Homo sapiens: one gene and its partners. The protein of the gene in region 3 purifies or fractionates together with the protein of the main gene of each other region. This does not show direct contact. Each region holds a gene or a part of one and is shown on either strand. Other genes may lie near its edges.

Region 1 (3,653 bases), on a different chromosome or scaffold from region 3:
CAAGTGATTCTCCTGCCTCAGCCTCCCGAGTAGCTGGGACTACAGGCATGCACCACCATGCCAGGCTAACTTTTTTGTATTTTTTTTTAGTAGAGATGGGGTTTCATTATGTTGGCCAGGCTTGTCTTGAACTCCTGACCTCGTGATCCACCCACCTCGGCCTCCCAAGGTGCTGGGATTACAGGTGTGAGCCACTGCACCAAGCCAAATGTGTCTATCTTTATTACAATTACACCCAGCCTTCATTTGACCAAATGAGTCTTTACCATACCCACCAATTCTGCAACTTCCTTTTTCAACTTCCCAGTCCATCCTGAACAGCATGGCAGATCAATCCAACTATAGCTCCCTAATCCCTATTGGTGCCCAGGATGACAGTATATGAATATGTGCTGACTCTACTTTGTAAGTCCCCTGACAAATGAGTACAGCTTGGTTTCAGGTTTTGCCACTACAATCAAGGTCACAGTGAACGTCTTCACCCAATCTTGGCAAACTTTGGAGAGCACAGCCATGGGGAATGTTCCTCACCAGGGGATTACTGCCATTCAGCAACTTTTTTTGAACTATAAATACCTTATCAGCCTGAGTCAGGTACTCCAGTGGCCAGCTTTAAGGGAAGGCTTTCCTGGAAACAGCACCCCAGACGGTGCAGTGCCATCCTCGCCATGTGGCATGGCTGAGCACACCCAGACTGATCACACAGCACTAGGCTTTTAATGCACTTCAGCTCTGCCACTCACAGCAGATGGCTGGAAAGGCCCCGCCACACACCCAAAGACCATCACATGGACTGATCACCCTAAGTGACATTCAGGAAATCCAGATTCCCATCAGGACCCCACAACTTCCTTGCCCTGGAGGCGTCTCACTCTGTCACCTGAGCTGGAGGACAGTGGCACAATCTCAGCTCAGTACAGACTCAACCTCCCGGGCTCAAGCAATCCTCCCACCCCAGCCTCCCAAGTAGCTGGGATACACCACCACACCTAGCTGATTTATTTATTTTTTCCAGAGATGGGTTGGTTTTTTTGTTGGTTTTTTTTTTTTGAGACAGAGCCTCACTCTGTCACCCAGGCTGGAGTGCAGTAGCGTGATCTTGGCTCACTGCAACCTCTGCCTCCCGGGTTCAAGAGATTCTCCTGCCTCAGCCTCCCCAGTAGCTGATATTACAGGTGCTCGCCACCATGCCCGCCCAGGTAATTTTTTTGTATTTTTAGTACAGACGGCGTTTCACCATGTTGATCAGGCTGATCTCAAACTCCCGACCTCACATGATCCACCTGCCTCAGCCTCCCAGAGTGCTGGGATTACAGGCGTGAGCCACTGCACCCAGCCCATTTTCAGGTCTGAAAGTGGCTCTTGGCCAAAGTAACTGGACTCTGACCAGCCACACATGGAGGCCACTGCTCCTAGGACAAGCAGCAAATGATCACAGCTGACAAGAGTTTGGACGATCACCCTCGTAGCATGCACAGCCCACACAGGCACACCGGCATCACCCTCGTTCTCCAGACGTGAGGATGTCTGCCAACCCACCCCTGCAGAATCACCGCTAGGGTAGACACTGAGGCAAGTGCTTGATGTGGGGAAACTTAGCTGGTCTCTGAGGCAACCCCTACCACCCTACACACAAGGAAAAGAAGGCATGTTACATGCACTGTCACTGACACACGGACACTGCTTACATACTTCCAGGTGGAAATAAGCTTCAGAGGAGCAGGGAGAAAACCAACCTGTGTGCATGTGCACATGTGTACGTGTTTCAAAGAGGAGATGACAGATGTGTATGTGCACAGGAACTTTCTGGAAGACTTCACAGGAAAACTTTTCTATTTTTTAAATTTATTTAGAGACACGATCTTGCTGTCGCCCAGGCTGCAGTGCAGTGGTGTCACCATGGCTCACTGCAGCCTCAACTTCCCAGGCTCAAGCCATCCTCCCACCTCAGCCTCCTGAATAGTTGGGAATAGAGGTATGAGCTGCTGCGCCTGGCTACAGGAAACTTTACAAAGGCTGCTTCTGGAGGGTTAGCTGGGAATGGGGATGAGGAAATTTTTTTTTTTTTTTGACAGAGTCTCCCTCTGTCGCCCAGGCTGGAGTGCAGTGGCGCAATCGCAGCTCACTGCAACCTCTGCCGCACGGGTTCAAGCGATTCTCCTGCCTCAGTCTCCCAAGTAGCTGGGATTGCAGGCGTATGTCACCAAAACTGGCTAATTTTTGTATTTTTAGTGGAGATGGGGTTTCACCATGATGGCCAGGCTGGTCTCGAACTCCTTACCTCAAGTGATCCACCCACCCCGGCCTCTCAAAGTTCAGGAATCACAGGCATGAGCCATCGCGCCCAGCCAGGGTTGAGGAAATTTTACAATGTTTTATCTGTTTCTAGACTGGGTGATAAGGGCGTATGACAAAAGAGATTAGAAAAAGCTCCTTCCGGCCAGGCGCAGTGGCTCATGCCTGTAATCCCAGGTGAGGCAGGCAGATCACCTGAGGTCAGGGGTTTGAGACCAGCCTGGCCAACATGGTGAAATCCCGTCTCTACTAAAAATACAAAAATTAGCTGAGCAGGGTGGCGCATAATTGTAATTCCAGCTACTCGGGAGGCTGAGGTAGGAGAATAGCTTGAATCCAGGAGGCGGAAGTTGCAGTGAGCTGAGATAGCACGACTGCAGTCCACTCTGGGCGAGAGAGTGAGACTCCATCTCAAAAAAAAAAAAAGAAAAAAGAAAAAGCTCCTTCCTTTCCTGACTGTCCTGTCTCTCAGGGGCCCCACTTTTCATTTGAAGCCTCTGTGGTTTGTCACCATGAGTCCATAGGTGTCTACAATTCAGGAAAGAAACTGGCCCCACTTCTGCCAGCAGCAGATTCCTTCAGAGCAGAGCCAGGAGAAATTCAGGCCTCAGCAGAGACTCCAGGGTCAGCGATCACACAGGCAACCCCTCCCTTAAGCTGCAGTGAGAACCTGAGTCCTGCCTACAAGAAGAGGGAAGAGCTGCCCCTTAGGGCTCCCAGATTCCCAAATAACTCACACACACGGCCAAGGGTGAGTCCGGCCCAGTAGCCACTTACCTGGCAGAAAGACTTCATCTTGTCCAGAACCTTGTTGACCTCTGGCATCACATCCTTGCCGTCTACCAGGATGGGTGTGTTTGACCGGTTCCGCAGAGCCACGTGCAGCACGGCTCGACCCTGGGGATTACGGTCAGGATATAAAGACTGCCCCCCCCAACCCCAGGCAGCCATGCTCCCAGCTGGGCATGGTGCCATAGCTCGGCCCTCTATCCACTAGACAGGCAGGCCCTGAGGTCTCTGTTAGCACCATAACCTTGTTCCAAGAACCCACTGTATGCTTAGAGGAGTAGGAGCTCCCCAAGGACTTATGTGCTGCAGACAGTCAGGAGGAGAGGAGGGGACCCATATATGCCTAGGACAGGCCCCGAAGGCCTGCCAGAGATGCTCAGGGCATGAACAGTGAGAGAAAAGAGGAACAGTGAGCAAAGGCAGAGAATGGCAACAATACATGTCAGAAACAAGCAATAAATGCTTTCAGAGGCCGGGCGCCATGGCTCACGCCTGTAATCCCGGAACTCTGGGAGGCCATGGCAGGTGGATAACTTGAGGTCATGAATTCGAGACCAGCCTGGCCAACA
Region 2 (3,653 bases), on a different chromosome or scaffold from region 3:
GGCGTGAACCTGGGAGGCGGAGCTTGCAGTGAGCCGAGATCGTGCCACTGCACTCCAGCCTGGGCGACAGAGCAAGACTCTGTCTCAAAAAAAAAAAAAAAAAAAAAAATACAAAAATTAGCTGGGCACGGCGCGCACGCCTGTAGTCCCAGCTACTCGGGAGGCTGAGGGAGGAGAATCACTTGAACCTGGGAGGCGGAGGTTGCAGTGTGCCGAGATGGCGCCACTGCACTCCTGCCTCGCAACACAGCGAGGCTCCGTCTCAAAAAAAATCAACAACAAAAAACCTGGGTGAGAAATATAATTATTCTCTATTTTATATATTTCTATATCCACATTCTATCATATAAAATTGAATTTCTATCTGGGTCCGCTTGATTAAAAGGGCAAAAAACTTTCCGATAATGTTGAAATCTTTGTTTCAATAGTTCCAAGGACTGATCTGTAACTGAGAACAAATTGTTTGTTGTAGAAAACTGGTCACTTAAAACTATGAAATACGCTTGTCACAGGAAGCTGATTTTACCCATTGACCCAATCATCACAACCTCACTTTAATTGAACTTGAATTCAATCAGTATATAAAGGACCATGCAGATTTTAGAAACAAAGGCCAAATAACTTCTCTGTTAGAATTTATTCTTAAGAGGGAAAGAAGTTCCCCCAATACGTTAGCTTGTGATAGAACTCAGAAACTTGATCGATACTATGTCTTACCTAAGTCATTGTTTTTTGTTATAGCATTAGCTGCTCTGGTTCGTGGTCCCTGCTGTGTAAACTGATATCCAAATTTAAGGATATTTGTATTTTCCTCAAGCATCTTGGCCATTTCCAATTCTACAGCTGTCCCCAACTGCTGCCTCTGGAGTAATTAGAAAAAAAGAACAATATTAATAAACTAGATCAAAATACTTTTCAAGGTAAATTAAGACATTCAGGCACATGCTAATTCTTTGATCTCTTTAAATGTTCCCAATTCCTACAACATATACATAGTTCAGTAGTTCCAAGTACTGATTTGTAACTGAGAACAAATTGTTTGTTGTAGAAAACTGGTCACTTAAAGCTATGAAATGTTTGTCACAGGAAGGGGATTTTACCCATTGACCCAATCATCACCACAGCCTCACTGGAACTTTATACACACACACACACACACACACACACACACACACACACACTAAACTTTTTAAAGTTCAGTAATATGATCATATAGACATCAAAAAAGTGTGAATTACTATAATGACATATCACTTCATACCCACTAGGATAAGTATAATAAAAAAGATAGATAATAACAAGTGTTGGCAAGAATGTGGAAAAATGGGGACATTGCTGAGAGGAATGTAAAATGGTACAGCTACTGTGGAAAACTGGCTGCTGCTCAAAAAGTTAAACATAGAGTTACCATGTGACCCAGCAATACACTCCTAGCTATATACTGAAGAGAAATGAAAATCTATGTCCATGTTAGAGTTTGTAATGAATGTTCACAGCAGCATTATTTCTAGTGGCCCGTATGTGGACACACCCCAAATGGAATAGAATATTATTCAGTCATAAAAGAATGAGGTCCTGATGTATGCTACAATACAGATGAACCTCCAGAACATTATGCCAGGTGAAAGAAGCCAGGCACAAAAAGATCAAATATTGTTTGATTCCACAGATATAAGCTGTCCAGAATAGGCAAATCCTAAGAAACAGAAAGTGGATGAGTGATTGCCAGAGCCTGGTGAGAGGGGTGAATGGGGAGTGACTGCTAATGGGTATGGGGTTTCTTTTTGGGGTAATGAAAATGTTCTGGAATTAGTGGTAATGGCTGCAAAACTCTACAAATATACTAAAAACCATTTAGCTGTATACTTTAAGAAAATGAATTTTACTGTATGTAATTATATCTCAATAAAAAAATGAAAAACATGGATTATGAAGCACTGGGTTAAATTTTAAGACATAATCCTCTTTTCCACCTTCATAGTTTACAAAATGTATTTACTTTGAAGGACTGAAGGAGACATTTAACAAATATTTTTTCAAATAAATGGAGTTATTTTTTCAAATAAAAAAATTAATAGCTACTCTGGATGGAAACATTTCTAACATGTATCTCTCTGCCTTTTACAAAAACCCTACAATGTGGACCTTGCCAGCACAGAGCTGAAAAATTGGAAGGTGGACTAGGTCACATGTAAGAGTCCTCTCAGTTCAAACTAGATAGCCATCTAAATTCTCTTAAAATGATCTAGGGAGAGTATACACCTTTACATTGTATACACTGTTATATACACTGAGTTAATATTCTAGATACCCCAAATGTCAGCTCTCCTTTCAGCCCAGCATCTTCCAACAGGGATCCCTGACAGCCCGCCTCCCATCCCCATCCTGAGTCGCCAAGCCCTACACAGCAGCGTGGGCTGTAGCTTCCTCGACGTTATTATTGTAGAACATTGACCTGATTGTCAATCTTGAGCTCTGCCAGGGTTTCATTATCTCTTAACGCATCAATCAGTGCCAGAATCCCAACTCCCGTGATAAAGTTGGACTCCACATTTAAGCTCTTCAAAGTTTTGTTCACTTTCAGCATTTCTGCAAAAGCCTAGAAATTAGAGAAAATATTAAGAGATTAAAATTTGATACAGTACCTACTACATATTGTACATGCCATAAATAAATACATTAATTAACTGCCTTAATGTTTGTCATTAGTTGTTTCAGTTTGACACAGTAGCCCATAGCTCTCACATGTACAGTTGTCCCTCAGTATTTGTTGGGGGTTGGTTCCAGGACCATCTGCAGATACCAAAATCTTCAGATGCTCAAGTGCCTTATAGAAAATGGCATAGTATTTGCATATAACCTTCACACATGCTCCTGTATACTTTTCATTACCTCTAGGTTACTTAATATACCTAATACAATGCCTACACATCACTTCATTTTTGTGGATTCAACATAGTACCTGGCATACAGCAAATTCAGATTTTGCTTTTGGAAATTCATAGAATTTTTTTCCAAATATTTTTGATCTGAAGTTGGTTGAACCCATGGATGACTGTATCTACTTTTCTTTCTTTTTTTTTTTTTTGAGACAGGGTCTTGCCCTGTCACCCAGGCTGGAGTGCAGTGGCAGGATCACAGCTCACTGCAACCTCTGCCTCCTGGGCTCAATTGATCTTCCCACCTCAGCTTCCTGAGTAGCTGAGACTACAGTTGTGTGCCACCATGCCCGGCTAATTTTTGTATTTTTTGTAGAGATGGGGTTTCACCATGTTGCCCAGGCTGGTCTCAAACTCCTGGGCTCAAGCAATCCACCCACCTCGGCTTCCCCAAGTGCTGGGATTACAGGTGTGAGCCACTACACCTGGCCTGTACCTATTTTTCATATGTACCCAGTCATAATCTTTTGATTTTTTGGTCACATGTAATTCCCCGTTGGTGACATTCTCTACTCCTCATTCCCTACTTCATGCTTCTTTCTTCTGTCTCTCTCACTCTTTCAGTTTCTGTGTTAGACCAACTTCATCAATGTCGCTGTAACATCTTTTCTTATTTGGGTCTTGCTGTAGCTGGATCATGTGAAGCCAAAATGAGGGTAAATTATGTACTAATTTCCAAGGCAGGGGCCAAAAGAAATGGTCAAGGCAGAAGGC
Region 3 (3,653 bases):
CTAGTTTACAAATTACTTACACATTGAAACGCTAAGTTCAAACAAAGAAAACAATAACTGGAAAGGTTTGCAGTAAATCTGAAATCAATGAAAAAAGCTGAAGGTTAATTCTAACTTAATCTTTTTCCCCCAGCCAGATTCAAAGTGTTCTACTCTGGAACTCCAAGAGCTGCTCCGTCTAGATTCTGAAAGTCATCTGAAAGGTTTTCAGTAAAACCTTGAATTGTTTCCTTGGGGCTCACTGAAATATTATTTCCTATTAGAGTCATTATCAGAAATAAAAGTCAATTCATAGTAATGAGAAAAATATGAACATACATACATGAGTATTACATCAGACAAACTAAAAAACCTGTAATACTAAGAAAGTAACTTCAGTAAAAGGGACAGTAGTAGGTCAATTTCATTAGTAAAGCATAAAAGGACTAAATAGAACCAAAAGAGGAAAGAGAAAACGACAGAATGTTACCTCCCACCAAGTCCTTCGATTCGTTCTCTTTCCTTGGGAAGTTCTGGCTTATGGTCCTGTGTCACCTCCACAGCTCTGACAAAGTCATCCTTCGGGTCATCCTGAATTCCAAGAACCACCCCTGAGTCACCTACGTGAGCTACATACATCTTCATGCCCCGAATGATGACCACACTGGCAGTTGTCCCTGATGTGCTAGGAAGACCCGTCATAGTCTTTGGCCATTCCGCTGTAATAAGAAATAAAATATTTCACTCTTGCAAGTATAAACATTAATACACTGTCAGGATACAAATGGCAACAAACTCTGAATTAGCATGTTAACATTCGAATTAGCACAGGAAACAATTTAAGAAAAATATTCTGAAAACTACTAAAGGACTTAGGTTAATTAATGAATACATTAATAAATTAATGTTATAAATAATGCAATTATGATACAACTATCAAACCAATCCTAAGAGAAATATATTACAGGACAGGTTTACTACTGCTACATGACTCTTAGTCCTAACTACATTGATAGGAAAGAATGTGTTAAGAGGTTTTTTTAATCTGAATCAGTTTTGATTCAAGAGTTGTGGTATCATTTAGCCAGCCACTTAGCATCTGTTTACTCATATCTCTTCTAAAAGGCTTTCTGAAAAAGCTACTTGTTTTTCTGTTTTGTTGTTTTTTAGATTGAGTCTTACTCTGTCACCCAGGCTGGAGTGCAACCTCTGCCTCCTGGGTTCAAGTGATTCTCCTGACTCAGCCTCTCGAGTAGCTGGTATTACAGGCGCCTGCCACCATCCCCAGCTAATTTTTGTATTTTTAGTAGAGATGGGGTTTCGCCATGTTGGTCAGGCTGGTCTCAAACTCCTGACCTTGGGTGATCCACCCGCTTCGGCCTCCCAAAGTGCTGGGATCATGGGCATGAGCCACCGCACTCGGCTTGATTTGTTTTTGAAATAACTATTTTGAATAGTCACTACTTAACAAATTACATTTACTGAGTATATTCACTGTATACCAAGTTCTATACTAAGAGCTTTACATGTATTATCTCAAATAATGCTTGTGACGAACTTATGAGACAGATATGATTATTCCCTTTATTTATTTACTTATTCCTCATTTTGCAGATAAGGATATCAATACTTTGAATAATTAAGAAACCTGCTTCAGATAACTCAAATATTTAGGGGCAGAATCCCTGTATATTAAATTACAAACCCTATACTGTTTAATTAAATTCACTGTCATTCAACAATTCTGAAGTATTATGTAACACTAAACAAACTGCAACTTATAGTTCATGATGGCAAAATGAGTCCAAACAATGACATATTCTCCCCACCAAAATCCCACTGAAAGGACAGAATGTAAATGTTAGAAATAAATCCACAACATATAGACACACACAGAAAGGTCATAGGCAAAGATGAAGAATTCCTGGAAGTTTAAAGGAATAGAATTATGTTAAGAAAAAAAATAAAAATGCAGACTTGTAATCCAACATAAGCAAAAAGAAAAATCAGTAATAAAGACAGTAAATGAGTGTTCCTTTTTTTTTTTTTTGAGACAGAGTCTCGCTCTGTCGTCCAGGCTGGAGAGCAGTGGCATGATCTCGGCTCACTGCAAGCTCCGCCTCCCAGGTTCACGCCATTCTTCTGCCTCAGCCTCCCAAATAGCTGGGACTACAGGCGCCTGCCACCACACCCAACTAATTTTTTTGTATTTTTTTAGTAGAGACGGGGTTTCACTGTGTTAGCCAGGATGGTCTCGATCTCCTGACCTCGTGATCTGCCCGCCTTGGCCTCCCAAAGTGTTGGGATTACAGGCGTGAGCCACCACGCCTGGCCGATAATTTTTTTTTTTTTTTGAGATAACTCTTAACACGCTGGGAGTGGTGGCTCACGCCTATAATCTCAGCACTTTAGGAGGCCAAAGTGGGCGGATCACGAGGTCAGGAGATCGAGACCATCCTGACTATGGTGAAACCCCGTTTCTACTAAAAATACAAAAAATTAGCTGGGCGTGGTGGCAGGTGCCCGTAGTCCCAGCTACTCTGGAGGCTGAGGCAAGAGAATGGCGTGAACCCGGGAGGCGGAGCTTGCAGTGAGCCGAGATTGCGCCACTGCAGTCCGCAGTCTGGCCTGGGCGACAGAGCGAGACTCCGTCTCAAAAAAAAAAAAAAAAAAAAATACAAAAAATAGCCAGGCATGTGTGCCTGTAGTCCCAGCTACTCAGGAGGCTGAGGTGGGAGAATCACTTGAACCCAGGAGGTGGAGGCTGCAGTGAGTGGAGATGGTGCCACTGCACTCCAGCCTGGCCAACAGAGTGAGATCCTGTCTCAAAACAACAAACAAACAAACAAACAAACAAAACTCTGAGGTAGGGATAGTCTTCAATAAATGGCACTGGAAAACCTGGATATCCACATGCAAAAGAATGAAATTGTACCCTTGTCTTATACCATACACAAAAATTAACTGGAAAGTGATTAAAAACTGAAATGTAAGAAATACATTGAAAGCATAACTCAGGCCGGATGCGGTGGCTCACACATGTAATCCCAGCACTTTGGGAGGCCAAGGTGGGTGGATTACCTGAGGTCAGGAGTTCGAGACCAACCTGGCCAACATGATGAAACCCCATCTCTACTGAAAATATAAAAATTAGCCAGATGTGGTGGTGTGCGCCTGTAATCCCAGCTACTCAGGCAGCTGAGGCAGGCAAATCGCTTGAACCTTGGAGGTGGAGGTTGCAGTGAGCCAAGATCGTGCCGCTGCACTCCAGCCTGGGCAACAGAGCGAGAATCTGCCTCAAAAAAAAAGAAAGAAAGAAAAGAAAAGAAAAACAAAAAGCACAAAACTCCTAGAAAAAAAACATAAGGAAAAATCTCGACGTTGGTCTTGGCAATTACTTTTTTAATATGACCACCAAAAGAAATGGCAACAGGCTGGGTGCAGTGGCTCATGCCTGTAATCCCAGCACTTTGGAAAGCCAAAGTGGGTGGACCATGAGGTCAGGAGTTCTAGACCAGCCTGACCAACATGGTGAAAGCCTGTCTCTACTAAAAATACAAAAATTAGCCAGGCATGGTAGCGCACACCTGTAATCCCAGCTCAGGAGGGATCCTAACCTCAGGAGGCAGAGATTGCAGCGAGCTGAGATCACGCCACTGCACTCCAGCCTGTGT

What was found.
Region 1: the proteins of PPM1D (region 3) and GPI purify together in Homo sapiens (affinity purification with mass spectrometry; one large-scale study listed by BioGRID and IntAct). This does not show direct contact.
Region 2: the proteins of PPM1D (region 3) and TMOD3 purify together in Homo sapiens (affinity purification with mass spectrometry; one large-scale study listed by BioGRID and IntAct). This does not show direct contact.

Annotation. Positions count from the first base shown.
Region 1 is NC_000019.10:34,368,122-34,371,774, reverse strand, and holds part of GPI (glucose-6-phosphate isomerase), read right to left. Parts: intron 3,193-3,653; coding exon 3,073-3,192; intron 1-3,072. UniProt on the Homo sapiens protein: In the cytoplasm, catalyzes the conversion of glucose-6-phosphate to fructose-6-phosphate, the second step in glycolysis, and the reverse reaction during gluconeogenesis.
Region 2 is NC_000015.10:51,899,101-51,902,753, reverse strand, and holds part of TMOD3 (tropomodulin-3), read right to left. Parts: intron 2,600-3,653; coding exon 2,456-2,599; intron 863-2,455; coding exon 718-862; intron 1-717. UniProt on the Homo sapiens protein: Blocks the elongation and depolymerization of the actin filaments at the pointed end. The Tmod/TM complex contributes to the formation of the short actin protofilament, which in turn defines the geometry of the membrane skeleton.
Region 3 is NC_000017.11:60,620,566-60,624,218, reverse strand, and holds part of PPM1D (protein phosphatase 1D), read right to left. Parts: intron 699-3,653; coding exon 470-698; intron 1-469. UniProt on the Homo sapiens protein: Involved in the negative regulation of p53 expression. Required for the relief of p53-dependent checkpoint mediated cell cycle arrest.